Linked DNA regions of Homo sapiens: region 2 is linked to region 1. The links come from fine-mapping of genetic effects on gene expression. A gene starts in region 1. The other region holds a variant in brackets. All regions are shown on one strand. Distances are from middle to middle.

The links. PIP is the estimated chance that this variant, and not a neighbour inherited with it, causes the effect. A credible set is the group of variants that fine-mapping cannot tell apart.
Region 2: its variant is the best candidate, but not a certain one, in a credible set for the expression of ARID5B in whole blood (INTERVAL, PIP 0.66).

Annotation. Positions count from the first base shown.
Region 1 is chr10:61,900,734-61,903,233 of GRCh38, reverse strand. It overlaps ARID5B (AT-rich interaction domain 5B), which reads right to left and starts at 1,535. Exons shown (of 10, transcript NM_032199.3): 1 at 1,504-1,535; 2 at 821-1,075. The coding sequence starts at 1,524. RefSeq lists a silencer at 1-103 and an enhancer at 1,343-1,845.
Region 2 is chr10:62,189,366-62,192,385 of GRCh38, reverse strand. It overlaps a transcript of RTKN2 not described here. Among named protein-coding and RNA genes, the nearest start is that of LINC02621, 68 kb to the left of the region's middle. The variant G/A (reference allele first, on the strand shown) is at 1,192.

The DNA of each region.
Region 1 (2,500 bases):
CTGGACCCGCAGGGCCAGTGGGCGAGCACACACCCCTCTGCCCTCCCCTCCCCCGCCCCCGTCCCACACACCCCCAAAGATCGCGCAGGAGGACGTCCACTTTGCGTGGAGTAATTGCAAACTAGAACATCAAATGGCTTGTCCGGGGGGAGGGGGAGTGGGCGAGAGATAGTTGTTAATGCTTAACGTGTTTGTGCCTGTTACACCACCGCTTTGAAATCCGCCCGGGCAGATCTGCAAGTTATTTGAATGTATTATTCCAGTACCTGTCATTTATCACTTTATTCAACACGTCTTTGCCAACTCAATAGCTTTTGATCTCATTCTGCCTCCATTTCGTAATTTCCGCCCTCTTAAACATATCAAATACTTACTTTGAAAAAAGAACAATATCGAAACCCACCGAAAGAAATCCACCCAGACACGACCGAGCCAGACACGAAGGTAAATTTTCAAAAGGCAAAAAATATAAAAAGCATGTGATGTTCAAGAGGCAATAGCAGGAGAGCAAATGAACACACACACACACATACACACACACACACACACACACACACACATCCTTGAACAAAACCCTTCTCGAACAAGTTATTTGATCTTGACTAAAATCAGCAGTTGGATCCTCTTTGTAAAGCTGACAGCCAAACTCTGACAATGGCAAAATACTCGAGCCCCAGCTAGTGGCGCTACCCCTTTAAAAAAGGAGTCGATCCTGCTTGCCTGCAGAAGTGAATACAGTATTTTCAAGCTTGCCCTGTAATAAGCATTACTAGGGGGAAAAATAATAAAGAAAGAAGAGGGGGACAGACAGGTTTACCACCTCGCCATGGTCGCTATTTCTGCCCTGGGGAGTGTCTTCTGGGAGGAAATAAAGTTTAGAGCTGGATAAAAGTTGCCGGCTGGTCCTCTCTTCCCACAACAGCTGGAGCTCCGCTATGCAAATCGGATCCTTTGGCGTACATCTTACAAAGAAAAAGTCGCCAAGGGACAAAATTCTTGGTTTGCCTTCAAGGTGGAATTGAAAAGCCTTGTAGAAAATGTAAGGTCCGTGCAAGCCACACGGTGAGCCGACCCACTGCAGGGGGGGAAAAAAACACCAAATAAATAATGTAGCCATCAGAGCACAAACATCTATTCCCAGACACATTTACACACAGACATCCACTCTCTTAATACAGACGACCCAACAGATATAACGCTGGGTGGAAAAATAATAGCACCCACAAATTTTCTGCTTCCCTAAAAAAAAAAAAAAAAAAACTCAGGGCCCCCCACCGCCACTTCTACCCACCTCCCCATTTGAGGCGGTAAAATTACATTATGTATGTATGATCAGTGCAGGGATTTTTTTAAACAATAAAAATGATTTTGGGGGATGCAGAGGGTAAAAGTTTGGTGAAAAGTTTGTGGGGGGTGTGGGTGGGTGCAGAGGTGTGGGTGAGCTGGGGGGTTGGGGGGTGCCGGGGGGTGCCGGGATCGGAGGAGCGGAGGAGAGCGAAATACCTGGAGTGAGTTGGGCTCCATCTCGACGTTCTGAATTGATTGAACTCAACATTCTCTCCAAACTTGTTGGCTTGAATGGATTGCATCAGGTCCTGGCAGGGAAACGCATTCTCTGCCTTCAGCCGGCGTAATGTCTCAATATAAAACTGAGCTCTTGCCTCCCTTCGGGCACCGAAATGATTGAAAATATGTCCTAATATTTCTATAACGACTCAATTTTCAGCTCCTGAAAAAACTATGTGGGTTTTCTTCCAAAGATGGATTGATCAAATTCATAATCGAGAGAAAGGCGCCATACGATCTCGGCGGGAAGAGGATGGATCAAGGCAAAAAACACACAAGAAGATTTGTAAAAATAAAAAGCACCCTAAAACTGTGTGGAGATGTGATTCCTCTCTCTCTAACCGCTCCTGTCTGGGATATCGTCTGATGAGATTTTTGGAGGAGAGGAGGGGTAGCGAGCTCCACTGTGCATCTGACAGGACCTGCTTGTATATGTCTAATATAAAGAACATTTCCTGCAGAGATTCCGGGGCGCTGCTCCTCTTTCTAATGCTTCTTAGCAGATTTGCTGTTATTAGACATGTAGATTTGTTTGATAGTTAAATTACGCTTCCTCACTGCCATGTTTTCGAGAACTAATCTGTTAAATTATCTTTTGATGCCTATTTACATGGAAGGGAAAAGTGGGTTATCGATTATATAAACATATAAATATTAATGCATTTGTTCGCTTCGCAAAAAAATACTCAGCAAAAAAAAAAGAGACAAGTGAGCAGTGCACACACATCTTAGGATTTCGCAAACAATATTGAACGGACAGCGACTGCATTTAGGGACTGGAACAATAAACGATGCATGATAAATCAATAAATGCGAGAAGCGAGTCTGCTCAGAATATGAATTCAGGCTCCCGGTTCTGCGTGTGCATTCTTTAATTTTGAAGTATATACACTAGTACGTGTTTACAATGCTGATGGACGCCAAGGGCGCTCTC
Region 2 (3,020 bases), 290 kb before region 1:
TTCAAGGGCAGAAAGCATGTTTTATTGACATTTAACCCTGTCATAGTATACTGTAATGAGAGTGAGTACAGCTTATTGGGTAATATGTGTAAGATACTATACTGTGTTAAATATTTTATATAAATTAATCATTACCATATTCTCTCAGTAGCCCCCCTTAACACACACAAGAGTGGAAGACTTGCTCTGGGTCATATACTGCATGGTAGTTGACTACGGACTCTGGAGTTAGACTTGGGTTAAATTCTAGCTCTGTCATGACTTAGCTATATGATTTGGGGCTTTTTTTTTTTAACCTCATTTGGGTTTTTTATTTTAATGTTTAAGATAAAAAAAAACCTTATAATATAGTTGTGTTTATTAAATAAGGTAATGCATGTAACACATAGTCTAGGACCTAATACTTAAGTTCCTGCCTTGTTTCTATAGGTTGACATATAGTATGTAACACGTGTATGAAGAGGGAAGAGGATACAGCTGATAGAGACCCAACACACACACAGTAACTTAGTCACTTATAACCCCTCTCCTATTTTCATTTCTTGCTTGATGTGAACATGTTAGGCTCACAGTGCATAAAAGTTTAGGAAATACCTAAAAGTGTATCCAAATACTTATTGTTCATTGTCTCTTGAACTCTATATTTGGCACTATTGGGGCTTATAAATTAAAAGACAGCCTATTCTTAAGCTCACGTGAATTCCGGTGAGTAGAACCAATCATTAGAGACTATGGAGATGAAGCATGGTTTGACCTGCCTCCCATATATCTAACATAAATCTGTCTGGATACAAGCAATCCCTACCTGCCACTGGGAAACTTAGGTTATAAAGATTAAAAAATACATAAAACACTGTGGGCAGTATGAAAGAGTAATCAGTATTACACAATTTAGCATCTCATTTTAAGTGCTGTGAAAGATCTGTGACGGATTGAGTTAAGGCTGGGCACGGTGGCTCATGCCTATAATCCCAGTACTTTGGGAAGCCAAGGCAGGCAGATTGCTGGAGCCCAGGAGTTCAAGAGCAGCTTGGGCAATGTAGTGAAACCTTGTCTCTACAAAAAATAATAATAATTAAAACATAGCCATGTGTGGTGGCACATGCCTGCAGTCCCAGCTACTTGGGAAGCTGAGGTGGGAGGATAACTTGTAACTTGAGCCGAGAGTTCCAGCTGCGATGAACTGTGATC[G/A]AGTCACTGTACTCCAGCCTGGGCAGAGTGAGACCCTGCCTCAAAAAACTAACGAGTTAAGAAGTGCAAAAGTATATACTATGAATATCTTGCAAAGATATAAGGATTAATAATAATAGGGTTTTCAAATCTAGAAGGGATGAGTAAAATAGAAGATAATTCATCCAATGGGTTCCTGGAGGAGTTTCATTTTGCAGCATTCAAAGGGAGGTTAGTAGTCATAGAAGTGGAAAGGAATGAATGGATAAGGCAGTTGGCTGGGCAGAAATGGAATGAGCGTATTGTGAAGTAAATTGTAGGTAAAACAAGTAGGCATGATTGAAGCAAATGTGGCAGTAGGTGAGAGATGGGATATGCTGGACCACATAAAGGACCTTGAATGCTAGTTCAAGAAAGTAAGACGGGTTAAGCTGGAATAGTTGGCATCAGAACTAGAGCTGACGGAGTTAGGAGAATGAGCACTCAGCCCCTGGCTACCATTAACTAGCCACGTTGTCTTGGACAAGGTATTTACTCACCTGTTCAACTTCCTTATTAACATTAAACAGGTGAGTAAATACTTTGTTCTAGACAACATGGCTAGTTAACAACTGGGATGGCTACTGGTGTTTGTCTCAAATTGATCTAGACAGCCCTAAGTCCCTGAGTTGATGCCTTTGGAGGTGGCAACCAGTAGGGTGATGCCAGGCGAGGGAGTCTCTGGATCTCTCCTAATTCGGCCAAAGCAGCTCTAAGTTTATCTGTTTTATGTTTTAACCCCATGAGGTAGTATTTTAACAATCCCCATTTTACAGATTAGTAATTGGAGGCACAAAACAATTAAGTAACTTGCTCACAGTCTCCCAGTAAGTGGAGACAGGATTTGAACCTAATCAGTTATTGAAGAAAGTGCTCTCATCCTCAGTATACCAACAGCCTCTGATAAACGTGAAATAGCAAAAAAGCATTGAGACCAAGGTTTGCCAGACTAGCCTCCAAACTCTTTTTTCCCCAATAATGTGGTCACTTGATGTATTCCTTTGCATTAAAGCCCTAAATGAAAATCCATTTCCTTCGCAATTAGATCCAGCCTATATTATTCTGTGCATAATGCTTGGCCCTGGGTTGAAGGAACATTTGAGCATATGTAAACCTAGATAGACTCCACTGTCAGGCTGCAGAAAGCACTAAAAAAAATATGAATGAGAGGAAAAGATAAATTCTATCCAGAGACATCTGGGACAACTAGAAGAAGTGGTATTTGAACCAGACCTTGAAGTATGAGTTGGTTTTCATTAATTACATTTCTTTAGGTAGAAGGCAACAGAAACTAACTTAAGCTGAAAATGAAGAAAAAAAAAAAGGTGGGTGAATTTATTTATTTTAAGAAAAAAAAAAAATCTCTGTTGCCCAGCCTGGACTACAGTGGCGTGATCTTGGCTCACTGCAACCTCCCCTTCAAGCCAGGTTCAAGCCATTCTCCTCCCTCAGCCTCCCGAGTAGCTGGGACAACAGGCATGTGCCTCCATGCCCAGCTAATTTTTGTATTTTTAGTAGAGATGGGGTTTCACCATGTTAGCCAGGCTGGTCTTGAACTCCTGACCTCAGGTGATCTGCCCGCCTCAGCCTTCCAAAGTGCTGGGATTACAGACGTTTGCCACTGCACCTGGTGGGTGAATTTATTGATAGGCTATTGGAATCACTCAGAAGACTGAAGAATGCCTAGGAAAGGTTGACAGGAAAACTCAGGGGTCCTCAGCAACATCAAGATTGAAAGAATACAGTCTGTTCCTCTCCTAGCTTGTTAGAATGGCCTTTCAGAGTCATGAGTTGGACATTCAAAATGAATC